Regions from separate parts of the Homo sapiens genome. Here region 2 is reported to be linked to region 1. The links are microRNA targets in miRTarBase. Many come from high-throughput screens and were not tested one by one. Region 1 holds a microRNA gene; the other region holds the end of a gene's coding sequence.

Region 1 (11,460 bases):
AGGTTGAGGTGGAGCCCCCGGAGCCCCCGGGGCCGGTCGCGTCCCGGGATAACAGCAACAGTGACAGCGAAGGGGAGGACAGGCGGCCCGCAGGACCCCCGCGGGAGCCGGTCAGGCGGCGGCGGCGGCTGGTGCTGGATCCGGGGGAGGCGCCGCTGGTTCCGGTGTACTCGGGGAAGGTGCGCCCGGTCCCGGGGAGGGGACCGGCGGAAGGGCCAAGGGCTTGGCCTCCAGGGAGGGGCCGGCGTTCGGGGAGGGTAGGGCTATAGGGGTGTTGAGGCTGGCGTTCTGGGGCTGGTCCTCGGGCGTTAGGGTGTTGGAGGCAGGGAGAGGCAGGGCTCCGGGACTTTCTGCAGACTGGGGTGGTGAAGGAGGGTGGGATGCGTTGGAAGTTTAGGATTCCTAGGAGCTAGAGTCTTGGGGGCACAGGGAGGCTGAAGAGCTGGGATTCCTGAGATTTTGGAGAGGGACTGGGAGGACCTGGGGCCGTTGGATTTTGAGGTTGGGGTCCATGGCAAATGAAGCCAGGGAGCTGCAGTATTGGGGGTTGGGGTCCATGCGGGTTCAGAGAGGACTGGGCGGCTCCAGAGGCTGGGGTCCCCCGATGGTCGTGTGAGCAATGGGCTGAGAGTCCCTAAGAGTCAGGGGTAGAGGGGCGGCTAGTAACCTAGTTAAAAAGGGCAAGGAAGCATACATTTCAGAGTGTCTTAGGCAGATGGAGGAAAGGGTGAAGGGTACTTCCATTCTGAATCCTGGGGAAGCTGGACTTCTAGGTTGCCAGGAGAGGGCCAAGGTGTCCACGATCTTAGGGAGGATTTGGGAGCTGGGTGTCAGGGAAGAATTACCCCCAATTTTTTCTTTCGGTAGGGGAAGGACTTGGGCCTGACCCCTCTCCCTTCTTTGTCTTTGCAGGTTAAAAGCAGCCTTCGCCTTATCCCAGATGATCTATCCCTCCTGAAACTCTACCCTCCAGGGGATGAGGAAGGTAAGGGAGGGCCTCCAGGGAGAGGCACGCAGCCGCTGGCTTCTCTTAAGAGAATTCCTGGGGTTTATATTCCTGCAGTCAGTTGTCTCCTGAGGCTCAAGGGAAGAGCGTGGGAGAGGGGACTCCTGCATCCCAGCCACAGGAGCTGGATTGTTAACAAGCATAGAATGTATTAATGTATACATTTCTGGTGCCACCTGAAGAGATGCTGATTCTGTAGTCCTGGGCGGGGCAGGAGGCGGTAAGGTGTTGAGAATCTGTGACATCTTGTTACATCTGCAGCAAGTTCTTTGGGAACACTGGAGCCAGCAGGGTGTTCTCTGAATCTTATCAGGGATGCCCTGTCTTTGTCCTCCCCCACTGATGCATTTTTTGCAAACAACTCAAGGGCGGGGAATAGGAATCTAGTCTAATAAGGAAATAATCCAGTGGGCAAATGGAGACCTTGGACCAAGACTCTTGTACCATGAGGGAGTACAGTGGGGTGATTAAAAGCAAACAGGAGCCATCTGGCCTGGGTTTGAATCTCAGTTCTCTCTTTTTTTTTTTTTTTTTTAGACAGAGTTTCGCTTTTGTTGCCCAAGCTGGAGTGCAATGGCACGATCTCGGCTCGCTGCAACCTCCACCTCCTGGGTTCAAGCGATTCTCCTGCCTCAGCCTTCCCAGTAGCTGACTAATTCCCACCACGCCTGGCTAATTTTTTGTATTTTTAATAGAGATGGGGTTTCACCATGTTGGCCTGGCTGGTCTTGAACTCCTGACCTCAGGTGATCCGCCCATCTTAGCTTCCCAAATTGCTGGGATTACAGGCGTGAGCCACTGTGCCCGGCCTCAGCTCTATCTCTTAATAGCTGTGTGATCTTAGGCGAGTTTCTTTTTTCTTGTTTTGAGACAGAGTCTCACTCTGTCACCCAGGGTGGAGTGTAGTGGCGCAATCTTAGCTCACTGCAACCTCCATCTCCCAGGTTGAAGCCATTCTCCTGCCTCAGCCTCCCGAGTAGCAGGGATTACAGGCGCCCGCCACCATGTCTGGCTTTTTTGTATTTTTAGTAGAGATGGGGTTTCATCATGTTGGCCAGGCTGATCTCGAACTCCTGACCTTAGGTGATCTGTCTGCCTTGGTCACCCAAAGTGCTGGGATTACAGGCGTGAGCCACCACGCCCAGCCTGGGCAAGTTTCTTAATTTCTCAGTGCTTCAATTTCCTCATTATCAAAGTGGGGATAATAGTAGACCCCATTTTGGTGCTGATTTTGGTGAGAATTAACGAAAGGGAATATAGAGAGAGCTGCCTCTTGGCTAGATATATGCTTTAGGACAGTACCTAGGACACAGAAGTGCTACGTAAAAGGTACCTCTATCCCTGATACTCAAAACGTGGGCCCAGCCATATATGGCATCCGTTGGAAGCTTGCTAGAAATGCAGGATCGGCTGGGCACAATGGCTCAAAGTGCTGTAATCCCAGCACTTTGGGAGGCTGAGATGGGAGGATTGCTTGAGCCCAGGAGTTCGAGACCAGCCTGCGCAACATGATGAGACCCTGTTTCTACAGAAAAATAAAAAATTAACCAGGCATGGTGATGTGTACTTGTAGTCCTAGCTACTCAGGAGGCTGAGGTGGGAGAAACACCTGAGCCCAGGAAGTCGAGGCTGCAGTGAGCCATGATCATGCCACTGCACTCCAACCTGGGTGACACAGTAGGACCTGGTCTCAAAAAAAAAAAAAGAAAAACGAAATGCAGAATCATAGGCCTCTTGCAGCTGCCATAGTTAGTTAGGACAGGATTTCATGACTTCAGCATTACTGGCATTTTTTGGACTGGAAAATTCTTTGGTGTTGGAAACTGTCCTGTGCATTGTAGAAAGTTTAGCGGCATCCTGACTTCCATCCCTGGGAAGTATTATACCTCAGCCCCCTCGCCCTCCACATTTTGATAACCAATATTGTCTCTAAACATTGCTATATGTCCCCGCAGAGGCAAAATTGTCCCTGGTTCAGAGCCACTGATCTAGGGTTTCTTATCATTTTTTAATTTTCACAGTATTTATTTTTGTGGTTTGTGATGATCTTTTATTGACAGCGGGCAAATAGAAATTTCTATATTATAGAAAATAATACCTGGTTTCCTTTCATGAGAAATTTAAGTTAATTTTAAGTTAATATGAGCTATCTTTATACTAAATAGCAGTCTCATCCCCTGCCCCCTTTCCCAATATTATCATGTGGCCCTGTGTGTGCCAGGGGCTCCGTGGTCTCCTCCTTTCCTAGGACCTTCTTGAAGCCTCTGACTTGTTTCTTCTTGGCCTTCGCTGGCCTCCCTTGGATAACCCCCTTCTACCTTCTCTTCCTCTGCCCCCAGAGGCAGAGCTGGCAGATTCGAGTGGTCTCTACCATGAGGGCTCCCCATCACCAGGCTCTCCCTGGAAGACAAAGCTGAGGACTAAGGATAAAGAAGAGAAGAAAAAGACAGAGTTTCTGTGAGTGAGGCCAGGGCCCTTGGGCCCTGGGAGCAGGAAGTGAGTTGGAGGGGTAAGCGGAGGCAGGCAGGACTCTTGGGTGACTCCTGAAAGGTTAAGAAGAAGGGATAGAAGGACTGTTGAGTTTCATGTGGGGAATGAATCGCTTGGGGAAAAGAGGTGGCTTACCCCGGAGGGTGACAGTGAACCCTTCAGGATCACCCTTGGGAGTGGATTCTGAGACCCTAGTAATGTGAGCTTAAGGTATGGTTCCAATCCAGCTTCCCTGTCCTCTCTGTGCTTCTCTTTCTTCATCTATAAAACCCCGTTTTATAGCCTGGGAAACATAGAGAGACCCTGTCTCTACAAAAAATAAAAAAAAATTAGCCTGGCATGGTGGCGCATGCCTGTGATCCCAGCTGCTCGGGAGGCTGAGATGGGAAAATCGCTTGATCCCAGGAGTTAGAGGCTGCAGTGAGCCATGATCGTGCCACTATACTCCAGCCTGGGTGACAGAGTGAGACCCTGTCTCTAAAAAGCAAACAAACAGACAGACAAAAAATACCCCCAAACCTGGGGATAATAGTGGCATTTGTGTCAATGAATTGCTGAGTCAATCAAGAGTTAACACTTGGCTAGGCACAATGGCTCTTGCCTGTAATCCCAGCACTTTGGGACGCCAAGGGGAGTGAATCACTTGAGCCCAGGAGTTCAAGACCAGCCTGGGCAACACTGGACATATGGTAAGTGCTTGCCGTCTGTCGGATATTATTGGACATTTTCCTGGGAAGTGACAGTCTCAAAAATGAGGCATTTTCTTCCCTAATATTCAGGTCATGTAAATATAAAAATGATGCCTCAGGCTTTCCCTCTCCCCTACCCCTGCCTTCCAGTGAAATGGGGGTTATTGGAAGCTGCTTCCTCTTTATTTTTTAAATGTATTTTTACATTTTTAGAGATAGGGCCTCACTCCATTGCCCAGGCTGGAGTGCAGTGGCGTGATCATAGCTTACTGCAGCCTCAAATTCCTGGGTTCAAGCGACCCTCCCACCTCAGCCTCCTGAGTAGCTGGGACTACAGCTGTGTTCTACTATGCCTGGCTAATTATGTAGAAATAGGGTCTCCCCATCTTGCCCAGCCTGGTCTTGGACTCCTGGGCTCGAGCGATCCTCCTGGCTCAGCCTCCAAAAGTGCTGGGATTACAGGTGTGAGCCATTGCGTCCGACTATGCTTGATTGTCCAAGGATCTGATTTCTAGGATTTGTGGGGCCAGTCTCTCTCCATTGCCTCCGTCCTGCTGTCTCTTGCTTCTACAGGGATCTGGACAACTCTCCTCTGTCCCCACCTTCACCAAGGACCAAAAGCAGAACGCATACTCGGGCACTCAAGAAGTTAAGGTGCCAAGTGCAGGGGCTCTGGCTGGGATGGAAGAGGGCAATCCGGGAGGGTGGCTGACTCCAGTTGACCCAGAGTCCTGTCTGCACTGCAGTGAGGTGAACAAGCGCCTCCAGGATCTCCGTTCCTGTCTGAGCCCCAAGCCACCTCAGGGTCAAGAGCAACAGGGCCAAGAGGATGAAGTGGTCTTGGTGGAAGGGCCCACCCTCCCAGAGACCCCCCGACTCTTCCCACTCAAAATCCGTTGCCGGGCTGACCTGGTCAGATTGCCCCTCAGGATGGTGAGTGCCTGAGGCCCATGGGAGAAGGACCCAGGAGCTGCTTCTGGAGAGATGGTGGTGTCCAGCAGGGGTGTCCTGGCAGAAGGGACTGTCATCCTTTTCCCATCCTGCTCTCTAGAGCTGCCCATCATTCTTTTCAGTCTGTCCTGCCTTCACACTTTTTGTTTCCTCTGTCTGCATTTTCCCAACGCTCCCCTCTCTTTCTGGCAAACTTTCTACCCATTCTTCAAGGCTCCTCATAAGCATCCTGTGTCTTTTTTTTTCCTTCAAAAAGTGGTCTTACTGTGTCCAGGCTGGTTCCGAACTCCTGGGCTCAAGTGATCGTCCCTCATTGACCTCCCAAAGTGCTGGGATTCCAGGTGTGAAGCATCCTGTCTTCTAAGAAGCTTTTTTTGGTAGTCTCTCTTGCCTTCCTCCCTAGGAACCTGGGCTTCCCTCCTGGGCTTGCTCTCACTGCCCTGGACACAGCAGATGTCACTCAGTCACCCTGAACTCCACCAGCTTCCTGGCGAAGCCTGATATTTTTGTAGGGATGACCCTGTTTCAACACCAGGAATGATAACAGACATTACCATTACTGATGCACAGTGCATCAGTCAAGCAACTAAGGCAGAGGCTGCAAACTGGCAGCCCATGGCTTTTCCAACAGTGTGTCTGCTTTCTTTGTAGACTTATTTTATTTTATTTTATTATTTTTTATTATTTTTATTTTTTGAGACGGGGTCTCACTCTGTCGCCTAGGCTGGAGTGCAGTGGCACGATCTCTGCTCACTGAAACCTCCGCCTCCCAGGTTCAGGCGATTCTCCCACCTCAGCCTCCCGAGTAGCTTGGACTACAGGTGCCCGCCACCATGCCCGACTAATTTATGTATTTTTAGTGGAGGCAGGGCTTCACCATATTGGCCAGGCTGGTCTTGAACTCCTGATCTCAAGTGTTCCCCTGTCTCAGCTTCCCAAAGTGTTGGGATTACAGGCATGAGCCACCGTGCCTGGCCTATTTTATTTTTTAAACATAGAGATGGGGGCCAGGCATGGTGGCTCATTCCTGTAATCCCAGCACTTTGGGAGGCCAAGGTGAGAGGATCACTTGAGGCCAGGAGTTCGAGACCAGCCTGGGCAAAATAGTGAGACCTTGTCTCTACTAAAAATAAAAAAATTAACCAGGCATGGTGGCACATACCTGTAGTCCCAGCGACTTGGGAGGCTGATGCAAGAGGATCTTCTGAGTCCAGGAGTTGGGGGCTGCAGTCAGCTGTGATCATGCCACTGCACTGCAGCCTGGGTGAGAGAGCAAGACCTTGTCTCTTAAAAAAAAAAAAAAATGGAGATGGGATCTTGCTTTGTTGCTCAGGCTGATCTTGAACTCCTGACCTCAAGCAAACCTCCCGCCTCGGCCTCTCAAAATGCTGGGATTATAGGTGTGAGCCATCATGCCTGACCAAGTGCTTTAAAAATATACGAGTTTGTTGTCACCTTTGTGATGGGTGATTTCATACAAAGGTCCAGATTTCTGGCCGGGTGCAGTGCCTCACGCCTGTAATCCCAGCACTTTTGGGAGGTGAAGGCAGGCAGATCACCTGAGGTCAGGAGTTCGAGACCAGCCTAGCCAACATGGTGAAACCCCATCTCTACTAAAAATACAAAAATTAGCTGGGCATGGTGCCACTGCCTTCCAGCCTGGATGAAAGAGCGAGACTCTGCCTCAGATCTCACCTGAGATCAGGAGTTCAAGACCAGCCTGGCCAATATGGTGAAGCCCGCCTCTACTAAAAATAGAAAGAAAAAAAAAAGGTCCAGATTTCTGGCTTCTCTTAAAAAATAAGAAGATGTGGCCAGGTGCGGTGGCTCACACCTGTTATCCCTGTAGTTTGGGAGGCCGAGGCAGGTGGATCACCCGAATTCAAGAGTTCAAGACCAGCCTGGTAGGAGAATCACTTGAACCTGGGAGGCGGAGGTTGCAGTGAGCTGAGATTGCGCCACTACACTCCATCCTGGTTAACAAGAGCGAAACTCCGTCTCAAAAAAAAAAAAAAGAAAAATATAGGAAGATGTCATACTGGCCCACGTTCCCACACAGTGCCAATCAGCTGGAGCTGCGTAACAGCCAGCCTGTCTAGGTGGCATGTGAATTCCAGTTTGCTGCAATCCCCACCACCCCTTTCTTTGTTCTAACCCATGGCTGCTATATTTCTTTGTGTTACTCGCCTGTACCCCTTGCTGACACGATTTTATTCTATACCTTGCCAGGTAAATATGATGAAACTCACAGCTGAGGAGCTTAGCAAGTAGCTAAGGCCAGAGCTTGTGTTTGGGTGGTGTGGCTGGGGGCATGGATTTCAAGGCAGGAAGACCTCTTTTGCTTGTTGTCCCCATCCCTAGTCGGAGCCCCTGCAGAGTGTGGTGGACCACATGGCCACCCACCTTGGGGTGTCCCCAAGCAGGATCCTTTTGCTTTTTGGAGAGACAGAGCTATCACCTACTGCCACTCCCAGGACCCTAAAGCTCGGAGTGGCTGACATCATTGGTGAGAGGAAGGCAGGGAGGTGGGGCCTTGAGGCATTTGCCAGGGGAAGGGGATATGGGGAGAGGTTCAGCACGGGCCCTGCTTCCAAGCCCCCACTTAGCCCTGGCTTCCTGATTCTGCCTCCCACAGACTGTGTGGTACTAACAAGTTCTCCAGAGGCCACAGAGACGTCCCAACAGCTCCAGCTCCGGGTGCAGGGAAAGGAGAAACACCAGACACTGGAAGTCTCACTGTCTCGAGTGAGTGGGAGAGATGGCTCTCCACGCCCCTCACCCTGTCCTCTGCTGCCTCTTGTCTCTCTTGTCAGTTAATGGAGGATGGATTCCCCTAATCTTGACTTGCAGGAGACACTGCCCTCCATGTTCTTGGGTTCCCAGCCATCCTAGGTAGTGGGAAAACCCATCGTTCAACTTCCCTCCCCGCTTCTACTGGTACCCTCTGCCCTAGTCTGGGTGCTCCCTCGGTCTCCTGACTCCTTCTGATTAAAACAGAAAGGACCCTTAGACGGTAATCAATAAAACCCATCAAAATAACAATGAAGGCCACACGGCTAAGTGCTAGTCCCCGTGCTGAGGATAATTTCCTCACATTCAGGATCTTATTTAATTTCACAACAATCTGATGTGGGCCACAAAGCACTGTTGTTATCCTCATTTGGCAATAAGAAGATTGAGTTCTAGAGAGGTGGAATAAGCAACTTGGTGCAGTCATTTTTTTTTTTTTTTTTTTTTTGAGATAGAGTCTCGCCCTGTCGCCCAGGCTGAAGTCTGGCATGATCTTGGCTCACTGCAGCCTCTGCCTTCCGAGTTTCAAGTGATTCTCTTTCCTCAGCCTCCCGTGTAGCTGGGATTACAGGTGCACGTGCTGGGCTAATTTTTGCATTTTTAGTAGAGACAGGGTTTCACCATGTTGGCCAGGCTGGTCTCAAACTCCTGACCTCAAGTGAGCCACCCACCTTGGCCTCCCAAAGTGTTGGGATTACAGGTGTGAGCCACCGCGCCTGGCCTGCTGCATTCATTTCTTAAGTCTACTGTTAACGAAATACACAAATTGGGTGGCTTAAAACAATAGAAACCTATTCCTGTACACTTCTGGAGCCTAGAAGTCTGAATTGAAGGTGTTGGCAGGGCCTGGTTCCGTCTGAGAATCTGAGTGGAAACCTTCCTTACCTCTTTCTAGCTTCTGCTGGTGGCCAGAGTTCCTTGGCTTGCAGCTGTGTCACTCCAGTCTCTCCCTCTGTGATCACACGGTGTTCTCCATGTGTCTCTGTCTGTGTTCGTCTCTCTTCTTGGAAAGACATAGGTCATGTTGGGCTAGCCCCACTCTAACCAAGCACAACCTCATCTCAACTTGATTATATCTGCAAAGTCCCTACTTTAAATAAGGTTACATTCACATTTACTAGGGGTTAGGACCACAAAGTGCCTTTTCAGGGGAATACAGTTCAACCCTTAACACACTGTTCTCTAGCCCCCACCAAATTCATGGCCTTCCCATCTGCAAAATATATACATCCCATTCCAATATCCCTACAAGTCTTAACCCATCCCAGCATCAACTCTTAAGCCCAAAATCTCATTTAAATATAATCAACTCAAGAAGTCCCAATCTTATTTTCTAAATCATTAAATCAGTTTTGGATGAGACTTGGTATGGTCCATTCTGGGACAAAATTCCTCTCTCTCTCTCTCTGCGGACCCGTGAAATCTAGAAAATAAGTTATTTGCTTCTAAAATACAGTGATGGGACAGACATAGGATAGACATTCCCATTTCAAAAGTGAGAAATTGGGCCAGGTGCAGTGGCTCACACCTGTAACCCCAGCACCTGTAATCCTAGCTCCCCAGGCGGCTGAGGCAGGAGGATTGCTTGAGCCTGGGAGATCAAGGTTGTAGTGAGCCATGATTGCGCCACCTTTATTGGAAACTTTTATTCCAGTTACCAATAACACATTCCTCATTTCCTCCAGAGACCTCACCAGAAACACCTTTAATATTCATATTTCTAGCAGCCTTCTGTTCATAACAATATATGCATCCTGTTAAGATGATAGGAGATTTCTCTGCACCTCTCCTCTTTGTGAGCCTGCAGGGACATTCCCTTTAATGTCCATATTTCTACCAGCAGTCTCTTCAAGGCAGTCTAGGTTTTTCCTAACATACACCTCAAAATTCTTGCAGCTTTGGCCAGGCACAGTGCCTCACATCTGTAATCCTAACACTTTGAGAGGCCAACATGGACAGATTGCTTGAGCTCAGGAGTTCAAGACCAGCCCGGGCAACATAGTGAAACCCTGCCTCTACAAAAAATACAAAAATTAGCCCAGCATGCTGGCGCAGGCCTATAGTTCCAGCTACCCAGGAGGCTGAGGTGTGAGGATCGCTTGTGCCTAGGAGATTGAGGCTGCAGTGAGCTGAGATTGGGCCACTGCACTCCAGCCTGGGAGACAGCAAGACCCTATCTGAAAAAAAAAAAAAAAAAAAAAAAAAAAAATTATTCCAGCCCTGATCCAATTTCAAAGCCACTGTTACATTTAACCATTTATTCCAGCAGCACCCCACTTTTGTATTTTGGCTGTTGTAACAAAGTACCACAAGTTGGGTGGCTTAAAACAACATAAATTTATTCTCTCATTGTTCTGGAGGGTAGAAGTCTGAAATCAAGGTGTTAGCAGAGCAAGTGTCTCTGAAGATATGGGGGAAGAAAACAAACTCAGGATTTTTTTCTTTTCTTTTGAAAAAAACAAAAAAGAGACAGGGCCAGACGTGGTGGCTCACGCCTGTAATCCCAGCACTTTGGGAGGCTGAGGTGGGCGGATCACGAGGTCAGGAGTTCAAGACCAGTCTGATCAACATGGTGAAACCCTGTCTCTACTAAAAATACAAAAAATTAGCCGGGCATGGTGGCATGCGCCTATAGTCCCAGCTACTCAGGAGGCTGAGGCAGAAGAATCGCTTGAACCTGGGAGGCGGAGGTTGCAGTGAGCCAAGATCAAGCCACTGCACTCCAGCCTGGGCGACAGAGCTAGACTTCGTCTCAAAAAAAAAAAAAAAAAAAAAAAAGACAGGGTCTTGCTCTGTTGCCCAGGCTGGAGTGCAGTGGTGCGATCTTGGCTTACCACAGCCTCAAACTCCTGGGCTCAAGCGATCCTTCTACCTCAGCCTCCTGAGTAGTTGGGACTACAGGTGTGTGCCACTACCCTTGGCTAATTTTTTAATTTTTTTTGTGTAGACGGGGTCTCACTATGTTGCCCAGGCTGGACTCAAACTCCTGGGCTCAACTGATCCTCCCACCTCTGCCTCCCAGAGTGTTGGGATTACAGGCATGAGCCACTGCACCTCGCCCCCTCCTTGGGTTTAATTTGCTAGAGCAGCTTACAGAACTCAGGGAGACACTTACTTTCATTTACTGGTTTATTATAAAGGATGTTACAAAGGATACAGATGAAGAGATGTGTAGGGCACAGCATGGGAAAAGGGCGCAGAGCTTCCATAGCTTCCCTGGGCACCATTCTCCAGGAATCACCACATGTTCAACTATTGGGAAGTTCTCCAAACCCTGTCCTCTGGATTTTTATGGAAGCTTTGTTATATAGGCATGACTGATTAAACCATGGGCTATTGGTGGTGACTCAACCTTCACTCTCTCCCTCCTTCTTGGAGGTTGAGGGGTGGGGAAAAAGTCCCAACTGTCTTATCCTACCTTGGTCTTTCTAGTGACCAGCACCATTCCTGAAGCTCTCTAGGGGCTGCCAGCCACCAGTCAACTCATTAGCATGCAAAAAGATACTTAACTCTTTCCCAGGGATTTTAGGAATT
Region 2 (11,460 bases), not on the chromosome of region 1:
AGACAGAGGCAGCCTCCATTGCATATCACTTTGGATTTCTCTTTTGCGCTCCACGTCCTTCTTTGTTAATTGGAGTCAGGCCAGAATTCCTTGTAGAGCTCTGGCCCCTAATTTGACCCACACAGGAAGTTTTGGATTTCTTCCTCTCCTAATCGAAAAAATTATCTATCCTGCTTGGAGCTCTCTGGTGCTAGGACTTCCTATCACAGAGAACAAGGCTGTCACTCCACAAGTTGAGAGAAGGTCAACAGTCCTATCTCCTGGGAAATAAAATATACATGGACCCTAAATTCATACTAGAGTGCTGATGACTGACACAAAATACTTTCTTGTGCATAGGTCAGAAAATGAAGAGAGCAGGACGACTCTGGAAATGTGTGTTTATGTTTAGGTGCCAGTATGTAAGGGGACAGTAGTTAGCAAGAGCCTCTGGCAGGGGTGGGAAAGAACCCAAGCAGAAAGATAGAGAGTATTAGAGAGCAACTTTCCAGTCCTGTCCAGGGAAACCCAGCTTGTCACCACCTAGCACCGAGGCCCAGAGGGAGCCTGGTATCACTGGAGCCTTCTTACCTCCCTGCTGCCCTCAACATCCCGCCCCCAGGCGCCCTGGGAGCTGGTTGCCATCTCTAGTGGGGTGCTGACAGAAATGAGGTCCCTAATCAATTTTCCAGGGGGGCAGTGTCATCCCCTCAGGGGAAGAGCGGGTCCTGGGGCAGACAGCGGGATGCTGCCGGGGTGTTGGAAGGGGGCTGATTGTGACTCCTGTTCCCTGGTACTGTGGCTGCCTGGCATGGTGAGAGGATAGCACAGACTGGTCTCTCGGCAGCCTAACTAGGAGGGAGGCCCCAGGAGCAGCTTTGCTGTGGTGGCAGCCCTGGTGGTGGTGGTGGTCGTCGTGGTAGTGGCACAGCTCTGCCTCCCATGGCAGCTTAGGAGCCACCACCCCAGGGAGGGTCACTGTGGCAACAGCTACTCTGGGAACAGATCCTCCGGGCCTCTGAGGCTGGCCCCTGGTCTTCTCGAGGGGCAGCTGGCAGGCCTGTGCCGGGCGTGGGGAGGAGGCAGGGCACCTGTCTCTGAGCCAAGCCTCTGGGGCCCCAGGGCTGAGGCAAGGAGGAAAGGTGGTGTTTGTTTTCCTTTGTTTGCTATGAACATTTGATCACTGATGCTGGATTTGGAGTTAATCGTCCTTGGATCAGGGGCTCAATATGAGGAGCTGAGGGGAGGGGAGCTGAGGGGAGTCTCTAGGGATCTCAGGGATGGAGCTGGGCCTCAGGTTAAGGAATCCTGGGCTCTCGTCCCTGCAGAAGTCTCTTCAGGAGCAGTCTCTCCTGCTCCGGGCAGCCTGGGGTCTGAGCTGAGTTCAGGGTGCCCTTGGTGTCAGTGGCAGGCTGGAGGAACCCTGCTGTCCCACCTAAGGCTGGGGCAGGCCTGGGAGGCTCCGAGTCCAGGAAGACTGGAAGGAGTGGGGTAGGGTGCTGGCTTGAGGTGGACACCGGGCCAGGGTTCTCTTTCCCCGTTTCCCACTCCCTGACCTCACTTCCCTCCCTCTGCTTCTTCACTCTTCATCAACCCCTTTGCCCCTCCCTCCTCTTCCTCTTTCCTTCTTTCTCACTCTTCCTTCTTACTCATTGCTTCCTTTCTCACCATATCCTTCATTCACTTCAACATTTCGCTGAGCACCTACTCTGCATGGACCACTAAGCTAGGCCCTCGAGTGGGAGCTGGGATGAACCAGCACCTCTGAGCAACTCGCCACTGTGGGAAGGGGAATTTGACAAGTACCAAAAAGTACCAGGTAGAAAATGGTAGGTTCTAAAAGGAAGAGAGAGGAAGGGCTATGGGAACTCTCTCTCCAAGGCTTCCTCATTATTCTGACAGTTTCTCAGGCAGGAAATGCATAATGTAAAAAGAAGAGCGTTCATGTTATTCCCCAAGGACTCCCAGGAATGCCCTAGAAATGAGGTGCAAAAGCCAGCTGGAGACAGCTTGCGAGGAATAAGAGAGGATGGAGTTCAGCAGCTGCTCATGCCAGGCCTATCTCCAGCCCATTCATTCATTTGTTCATAAAATATTTACCGAGCCCCTATAGGCCCTAGCAACTTACAGGGAAGCAGGCAATACACAATTCATAGTTACAAAGGACTGTAAGTACCATGAAGAAAATGCACTGGCTGCAGTGATGGAAACTGACAGAGGCAGAGGGGCGTGGATGTGTGAGGGGAAAACGCCTCACCAAGAAAGTGAAATTTACAGCCAGGCCTTCTCAGCCAAGAGAAGGAGGTGGGGTGGGGCTGGACTGGGGTGAAGTGGTCCCCGTGAGGGAAAAGCAAGTGGAAAAACACTGAAGGTGAGAGAGCTGGGGATGTGTGGGAAACTGACAGGAAAGTGAGCTGCTGGTCTCAGGGGCTGAGAGCAGGGGCATGAATAGGTCTGCGGAGGCAGGAAGGCCATGAGGAGCAGCAGGGCATCACAGGCCCTCCTAAGGAGTCTGGATTGTACACGAAGTGGGAACCCAGCCATTGACAGGGTTCTAAGCAGGGGTGACATGATCTGATCCAGTTTCCATTTTAAGAAGCTCTCTCTCTGGTGACTGGGTGGAGACTGGTGGCAGAAGGGCAGATGGGACCCAGGGAGACCTGGGAGGAGGCTCCTGCAGAGCTAGAAATGTAGAACTTGGTAATAGGTTGGAATACGGGTGGGAGATATTTTTTATCTATTGGTCTTCTGGCCTCTCTCCCTGATTAGAATGTAAGTCCCATGAGGGCAGGGATCCTGTTGGTCTTGTTCACCATTGTTTCCCTGAGGACAGAGTTCACAGGTGTTTAATAAAGATTTAATGCACGAAAAATGAGTGAGTGAATTAAGGAATGAGAGGGTGGTTTTGACAACATCTATCTCAGCCTCAAGGTGAATGGTGGCAGCACGCTGAGGGGGACCAGGGAGGCAGAAGGGTGGGATCACAGCTCGGCATCAGGGAGCTGTGAAGACACCCAGGCACTGCCACGCAGGTGTGTCTGTGAGCAGGGAGTGCATGGGGAAGGGAGTGTCTGTTTGGGTCCCTATTGTACACCCAGGTTGTAGAGCAGTACCTGGGACAGAGATGCCACATATGTTTGCTGAATGAATGAACAAATGAATGAATGGAGCTGACGGGATTTCTGAACTGGAACTACACAAGTGGATGACACCAGTACCTGGAAGATGTTTAAGGCAATGGGAGGGGATGAGGTCACCCAGGAAAGAGTATGTGAGGAGAGAAAGGGAGCAAGCCCTAGCCCCCACCAGCAACCAGAGGTTGCTCATTTCAGAAGCAGAGGCCCTAACTCAGCCCCAAGGGGAAGCCTACATTTCTGTAGACTCGTATTTGATGGCTATAGCATATGCTTGCTAACCACTGCTCTTCTAGGGATCCCTGGAGAAGCAGGCAAGTAAGAGCGGGGAGTGGAGAAGCCCCCATAACCTGTGGGGAAAGAAAGGAGAGGCTTCCAGTGCCAACATCAGAAGGCCTCTGACCTCTTTGACTTGCAGCTGTAGCCGTTTGGCTCCCTCTCCTCACCCCCTAAAGCTGGGTCGGAGACAGCCTTGTCCCCAGAGTCCCCAGCGGCTCTTTAGCATGATGCTGCATTTTGAATGCGGTTACCACAGCCCCAAGTGACTGAGCCAGCTCACGTGCTACCTCTTGTGTGGGTACCAGTGTATGCACACACAGGGCTTGGAGCCAGGAACGGAAAGAAAGTGCTCACTGCAATAATGCCACAGGAGCCCCACGAGGGTGGGCACTGGATGGCATCACAACCCAGGCCCAGGACACTCCCCTCGCTCCAGACTAGAGGAGACACAGATGTCTCTCTGCCCTGCCCTATATCCCTGATGGGCTGGGAAGAGGCAGAGAAGAATTTAAGGAAAATCTTGCTAGGAAAGGAGTTCATCTGAACCCCATCTGAATACCTGTGTTCTGGACCTGCCTCCACCACTAACTAGCTGTGTGTGCCACGTGAGTCAGAAAGTCTTAGGATTGGAAACAGTCTTCTAATTCCACCTCCCACGCCGAGCAGAAATACTTCCCACGAACCCTGGTGCAGCACATGATCATCCACTGTGTCTCCAAACATTTTCAGGGAAGGGAACTTCACTACCCCGCAGGGAAACCCATTTTGATTTGGTAATTTTGTTAGAAAGTTTTTTTTTTTTCCAAAAAGCCTGGGAGGACCCACACCAGATGTTAACCATGTCACCTCTGGGGAGGAAAGTGGGACTGAGGAAGGGTGACAGGGGATTCCCTGTTGATTTGGTATGGGGATGGTTTCCAATACCTTGTATTAAATAAATGTTTGTTTGAGACAGGGTCTCGTTCTGTCGCCCAGGCTGGAGTGCAGTGGTATGATCATAGCTCACTGCAGCCTCAACCTCCTGGGCTCAAGAAATCCTCCCGAGAAGCTGGGGCTACAGGCACATGCCATCACACCTGGCTAATTTTTCTTTTTCTTTTTTTTTGTGTAGAGATGGGGTCTCACTATGTTATCCAGGCTGGTCTCAAACTTCTGGCCTCAAGCAATCCACTCTCCTCAGCTTCCCAAAGTGTTAGGATTACAGGCATGAGCCACCATGACTGGCAGTAATAAATTTATAATAGCAAGGGAAACAACAGAAAATAAGGTTCTTATATATACCTACTATGTACCCACAAAAATTACAAATCAAAAATTTCATTAAAAAAAGATTTTTTAAAATTTAAACCCAATCTGCCCTCCTAACATTTCCACCTATTATTTCCGGATCTGCTCTCTGCAATCAGAGAAGAATCTAAACCCACTTCCCCACAGGTACCCTTTAAACACCTGGTAGTTGGGATCAGGTTTCCAAGACTTCTCCAGCTTGAGCCACTCCTCATGTAACTTGGGTTCCAGAGCAGTCCTACCCCCACTTACCCACTTCTGTGCGTCAGAGAATAAAACTCCAGTGGGGTCGCAGAGGGAAGGAACCAAGCAGTCACTGAGCTGGGTGTTGCCTGCTGCTAATTAATGAATGAATCCCAAGAGGACATTCCTCCTCGCTTTATGTGTGTGTGGGGTGGGGTACATACACGTAAAAGGGAGAGTGAGTTTAATGATTCACTTCTCCAAGCCTTGGTTTCTTATCTGTAAAAGGGGAAAACAATACCTTTGCTATGAGAATCAATTGCAGTTAAGGAAATAACACTAAAAGCACAAACTCCTACACTGGAGGTTATGACTCACAAGCCCCACTCAGTTCAGAGAGTGGCTAAGCATTGGACCCACAGAGCCAGACTGAGTTTGAATCCCAGCTTTGCTACTTAATGGCTGTGTGACTTTGGAGAAATGACCTGACATTGTTGTGTTGGTTTTCTCCTCGTAAAACAAAGGTAAGGATAACATCAATCTTGGAATGCATCTTTATAAGCATGAAATGTACTGCCCAGCACTCAATAAATGTTCGCTGTTAGGTATAATCATCCCCTCTTATTCCTTCACAAGGAGATAAGGACTAAGGACTTCAGTGAAATGAGGCTGATTCACTGAAAAGTGAGGTCATCAAACCAAACTGGTCATCTGTTACTGGAGTGAGTTGCCCCAAAATACTCCCCTCTCCCTCTAGCAATGGTTATGTGCTAGGCACTGTGCGCGAGGCTTTACAGGCGCCGACTCATTTCTCCTCATGGCTCAATGAGAGAGACACGGCCTCAGGCAGATACTACATTTAAAAGATGAGGAAATAGACGTTCACAGAGGCTGAGTAACTTGCCCAGGGTCACACAACAAGGAAGTGATGGAGTCAGGACTCAAACCCAAGTCTGCCTGACTTCAAAAGTCTGTCTTATTCTTTTAAACAATGTCCTGTTCTTTTAACCAGCTCCCTACCTTGGGCTCGACTCCAGCTTTGGGGAACAGGAGGAAGCCAGAGCCCTTTCTTCCTTGACAGCACGGCCTGCTGTTTCTGTGAGGTGGGGAGGAGGGGCAGTCTGCTGCTTCTCTCGTCCACCCCTCCACCCTCCTGCACACTGCCCCCTCCTCTTCCAGCAGCCTGAAACGGTCACTGGGGACCCCAGTTGCCACCCCTTCAGTCCCCTCAGGACCACTCTGGCATCTAGTACCCCTGCTGCTGGCTGGGTTCTCAGCCCCTGACCATGAAATGGTTCCACATCGATCTACAGAAAAAACAGCCACTTTGGCCGTGGGCCCTGATGCGTAATATCATTATGGAGTCAGCAGCGCATCCCGTCCCATTATCGCCTGGCCAAGCTTTTCCAAGGCCAGCCTGGCTGCAAATGGCTTTCTCCTGTCTAGGGGGGCCACAGCCACTGTTTGCCCTCCACTACCGGAGGAGAAATTTTATCTTTAATTGACACTGGCTGCCTGCCACCCCCTTGCCTCGGCTGGCCCAGGCTCCAAGCCCGATCTTTCCTTACACTTCAGGAACAGGCTTCCCCTGGCTTCTTCCCTCTCCTCGGCCATTCCGTCCTCACCCTGCTGTTCTACACTGCCCAAGACAGCTCCCGGGTGTGTTCTTGTCCTTTCTTGGTGCAGCTGGACACGGAGATCTCAGAAGTCTGTGGAGAAAAGTCTGAGAGTGACAGGAACAGGGCAGGGAGGGAGCTGACACTGTGCCGCTACTATATGTCATATCACAGGTAGACACATGACACCAGGCCAGGCTCTTCACTCTGTCTCTGAAACAGGGGCCATCATTATTCCCTAACAAACAGGGAAACCATTTCGGTGAGTCACCCCCAAGTCACCCAGCTAGCAAGCAGCAAAGCAAGACTTTGAATTGAGGCCCCTATGGTCCTACACAGATGCCCAGAGTAAGAGTGAGGAGTAAGACAAGAATAAGGAGAGGCAAGCAGGCAACCAGACCCGCCAGAGCCTGGTGCAAGATGGAAACGCAGGGCCCCTGTTCAACCATTATTAATTTCATGATGGTGACAGCCAAGCATTAAACCCAGCATGGGGCCCTTCTGAGTGGCTGCACAGGTTGCACACCCATGAAGCTGGCCCTGCGTGTGCCCCTATGTGAACGTGAGAGGGATAACAACAGTGAGAGCCAAGGGCCACGTCTGACCATCACTCACCATCTCCCCGTCCTATCCAGGCCCAGGATGTGTTCACTCTCCATCCCTAAGTGGTCCCCAGTTGTGCCACCAGTCTCTAGTTGGCCTCAGTTCATCAGCCATCCAGCCAATAACTTTGGCGTCCCCAGGGTCTTGGCCCATTTAGAACTGGTACAATTGCAGGGAGGAGGGGAGGCCCCCTGCACAAACGGAATGCAGTGGAATTCCTTAAACAAAGAACAGTCTTTTCTTCCATGTTATGGCAGGGGCTTGGGGACAGCAGTGGATATTAGAACACTGTTTGGGTCTCGGGGTCCTGGGTTAGTCCTCTTTGTGTGGCTTTGGGCAGATGACTTGCCCTCTCTGAGCACTAGTCTCTCCCTGTAAAATGCAGGGGTCAGGCCACACTGATGATTCCTGCTGGAGTGGGGTTATGCTGAGTGTGTGCACTCCTCAGGTGTCAGGGGTGAGAGCCCCAGGAGGTCCCAATAGACACAGAGCCAGAAAGGAGAGGCAGAGGCAGGTGCTCACACAGCAGGAGCAGCAGGATGCTCCAGATGTCTTTATTGGGGCTCGAGCACAGCATGACAGTTGGAGGCATGCAGACAGGGCACAGGGCCCAGCCTGGGCATGCCCCAGACACACACGAGGGGACAGCTTTAGAAAAGGACTGACCAACACCAGGGAGGAGCAGGGAGGGAGGGCCAAGGGAGGGGCAGAGGCCAAGGCTGAAGGGGTCACCTGGCCTCTGCTATTGCACGCATCCTCTGGCCACTGACCAGGAAGTACAGTATTGCAACTGGTCTCCTCTTGCCCAAGGCTTCCCTTCTCGGACCCCCTGGGCCAGATGGGCAGACAGATCCTTTCCCTGCCTGTCTGCCCAGCAGCATCTTTGACAACAAACAGACAAAGGAGAGAGAACAAAATCAAATCTAAAAAAGACAAAATGCCCCCCTAAGTCAAGGACATAGATGGGGTGGAGGAAGTAGTGGAGGAGGCTGCAGAGGAGCCCCTGGAAGTCCCCCCACAACGAGGATGTGGGGTGGGAGGTAGAACCCCAATCTGGGGTGGGGTGCGGCTAGTGAAGCAGTGACCCTAGGGGGCAGTCTGGCCTTCAATAGACTTCACCAGGTTACTTGCTGACAGGGGAAACATCCCCAAGACAGGAGCCTGGGACTACCCAGCTGGACTGGCAATTCCCAGATGCACTTTTCTTGGGACATTCCACCCACACAGTCAGCAGAAACAACAGAAATCAGTGAAGGGGACGGGAAACTCTGGGTGGGGCAAGGGCTTAGGGAGACACAGCCTAACAAAGAAGACAAACCACCAATAGCACGTGCACTACACACAAGAGTATAATATGTATGAATATAGATACTATATGTGCATATATATCTCTTCGATGTACAATGGAACAGAACATCAGACCCAGATGGCTCTGGGCCCCGAGGGTCGCATGGGAGATTTTCCACCAGTCCTGTGCAAACAAGGATATCTGAGTCTTTCCCAGCGAAAAGATTCTTGTCTGGGTTCCAGAGTTTCCCTAAGCCTCTGGCTTTCTGTCTGTCTGCCTGTCTCTCTCACGTTGGTGCCGCTTTAAGAGAGGGTGAGGACTTCAGCCTGGGCATAGTTGGACGAGAGGGCGTCTTGGCAGGTCTCTGTGTTTAAAGAGCACAGGTGTGAGACACTGGGACGCACGCTTTCGGCTCAACATTGCCTTCTGGGGTTGGGGGGACAGGGAGTTCAGCAAAAGAAAGGGAGAAACAAAGAATGAGACGTTAGAAGGAAGCCAGCTGCTGACCCACAGGGTGTGGGCTAAGGAGTAGACCAGGAGCAGAGCTGGAAGGCATGAGGAACCCAGGGCTAAAAGGCCAGGAAGAGCATGGATGGGTCAGGGAATGGGGTGAACCCTTCACCCCTCTGCCAACCCAACTCTGGTGACTCAGGTGATGTTGTAGCTCATCGCCATACCTGTTCAGGTAACCACTAGCTCCAGGAACCACTAGCCTCTTAGGTCTTCAAAGCTCCAGTGCAGTGGAGAAAGGGACCATAGCTCTGCAGCCTTGCATGGAGGCAGTGGGGAAAGTTCCTGATGTGGCCTGTGGCTCACAGGCCATCACCCCAGCTGTTGCCTGACCAACTTGAGCTCTCCCCCAAGTAGCTCCATCTGCTGTCACCACCCTGGGATATTCCATTGTCCCAAGGAGCTGGTGAAGAAGGCTCCTGAGTATGATGCCATGTCGTGCCCAGCCCCCTTCCTCAATGTGGCAGGAACAGAGTCCCAGCAGTTGGAGGGCATGCAGCCTCAGGTGAATGCTGAAGGGGAAGGTCACGGAGGACGAATGTGCCTGTCTCAGGAGAGAAGGTCAGGAAATAGTACCTTATTGAGAAACCCAACCCCTCAGAGAGCCCTTTTGGGATCCCACCCTCAGCCTGGGATGTCTACCACCTGGGCCTTTCCTTCCCCTACCTTACCAGTGGGAGCACAGGTAGGGCAGGTAGGAGTACTGCTGTCCCAGCTGCAGATCTGGGTCAACAGTGGAGGTGGGAGTTCCAGACCCGCTGGGACAACCCCTGCAGCTCTCGGGTCTGAGGTCTAGGGCTAGGCCTCCTGTCAAGGTGGAGTGCAGATGTGGCATCCAGACCTCACAGCTTCCATCCTGGGCTTCGGGGTGCCTCCATCACCTTTCTAGGGAAGGGGTGTCCTCATCTTGGGGTGATGCTGTTTCCATCTTCTTAAGACTGTATGCCCCAGCCACCTCCTTAAACACTGCCCCTTTGCCTACAAGTGTTCTGGGCCTCTGAGTACTATCCTTGAAATCAGAGGAATTCAGGGTTCTTCAGAGCCCCATTTCTGAGGACACGCAGACAGAGCTGTGGTCTTGCCCTGTACTCCTGTCTGCGTAACTTAAGCAACACCTGCCACTGATCCCCACTCATTAGGGGACAGGGAAGTGCCTCTGGGCTCCCAGTAGGCAATTAGGCCCTAAGATGCACCGGTGAGAATGCCTGGGCTACTGAGGGGTCTAGGATGGGTCTAGGATGAGACAGAAGGAGTCACAGCAAGGCTGTCAAGTGTCCCAGAAGCCAGGGAGCAGAGCAGCCCATACTGAGATAATGGCCTTAGATTGCTTTTCCACTGGCTTCCATGGACTCTCCATCCTCAGGGACCTCTGAGAGTTGGGGAGGGGTCTTCCTAGGAATCTCATCCTGGATTCTTACCTATTTGACCCACCAGGGGTGGGGCAGGGATTTCAGAGGGTGACGCTGGCCAGAGCAGAGCAGGCCCTCCTCTCCCAGGAAGCTCTGTGAAAGGGCAGCCTGGGCCCTGCAGCCAGTCCATGGCCTCCCCTCTGGCTCCTGTCAGCCAGCTTCTAGGTTGCAGTGCCCTTCCTTCTGGTTCTACCTCTCAGAAGCCCTGAAAATTGGTCTCTAGGTTGCCAGTAACCCTGCTACAGACTGGAAGGCGAGGTTGTGAACTCCTACCCAGACTGCCTCCCAGTTCTGTGGGAAGGGGCTGAGCTCCAGCTGCAGGGGAAAGGCATCTGACAACAAAGTAGTGGGTGCAGGTCCAAGTCTAGCCCAAGGAAAACAAACTCTACTCTCAGATGGTGGGTGGGAGAGAGCCTTCTCTCAAGGAGGGAGGCTCAAGGCCTGGGTGAGCCTGACGCCTGTACAGGCAGCCACTTCCTGTGGCAGTGCCTGGTATGCAGGGGTTCTGCAAATGCCTGGGCTCACCCTGCCCTTTCCCAGGGCCCTGGGCAGGCCCAGAGGTGCTGAGAGGTTGTAAGGGCAGACAGTCTACTCAGCCCTCCTGCTATCTGGGTTCTATCTCTCCCAGATGAAGCCAGAGAGCCAGGAGGGATGTGTGGGAGCCAGCTCCCCGAGGCATTAGGGCTCCAGCCTGGCAATGCTGCATCTTGTCGCCCAGGGACATCTGTGCCCACCGTAGGGGTGCCATGAGCCAGACCCAGCCCTGTGGGAGGGAAGAGAGGGAAGGAGGCGGTGGGTGCCGTGGAAACTTGGGCTCCTGACAACTTGAGGGCTGCCACAGAAATAGCGGCCTCGGTTCCCTGAACCAGAAAGGCAAGTCAGAGGAGAAAACAGTGGTGGCATCCCTGTGAACCTGCACACCCGGCTCGTTGTGTCCCTGTCAGAGCCCAGGCCCTCCATGCCAGGGAGTCCTCTCGCTGTTGGGGGAGGGGCCCTCGCATCTCCATCCTGTTCCACAGGCTTCCCCATCCCTGTCACTTCAAGGGCCTGCTCCCTCCTGAAGGGCAGTTGCATGGAGGCCCCCACATCCCCTCTTCTCACTTCTTATGGGTCAGGTCACTTCATTCTGAGAGCAAGTGGGAGGCAGGCCCCACAAACCACTGCAGGGTGGG

The links. The annotated mature microRNA hsa-miR-4517 reads AAAUAUGAUGAAACUCACAGCUGAG and lies in region 1 at 7,368-7,392, shown strand. An mRNA with a match to its seed (bases 2 to 7 or 8) in the 3' UTR can be bound and repressed. Matches are read on the target gene's strand: a 7mer-m8 pairs with bases 2 to 8, a 7mer-A1 pairs with bases 2 to 7 and ends in A, and an 8mer does both.
Region 2: the mRNA of KCNC4 is a reported target of hsa-miR-4517. Seed matches in the 3' UTR shown: 7mer-A1 at 8,432-8,438.

What each region holds. Positions count from the first base shown.
Region 1 is chr16:28,951,220-28,962,679 of GRCh38, forward strand. MIR4517 (microRNA 4517) reads left to right here and starts at 7,364; the gene lies at 7,364-7,442. NFATC2IP (nuclear factor of activated T cells 2 interacting protein) reads left to right here. Exons shown (of 8, transcript NM_032815.4): 1 at 1-179; 2 at 913-985; 3 at 3,346-3,463; 4 at 4,759-4,839; 5 at 4,932-5,118; 6 at 7,498-7,642; 7 at 7,772-7,881. NFATC2IP-AS1 (NFATC2IP antisense RNA 1) reads right to left here. Exons shown (of 2, transcript NR_186408.1): 2 at 1,683-3,779. RefSeq lists an enhancer at 1-94 and silencers at 54-173, 11,088-11,296.
Region 2 is chr1:110,230,184-110,241,643 of GRCh38, reverse strand. It overlaps KCNC4 (potassium voltage-gated channel subfamily C member 4), which reads right to left. Exons shown (of 4, transcript NM_001039574.3): 4 at 7,600-8,733. The coding sequence ends at 8,672. Among named protein-coding and RNA genes, the nearest start is that of KCNC4, 26 kb to the right of the region's middle. RefSeq lists a silencer at 5,100-5,209 and enhancers at 5,721-6,221, 6,222-6,722.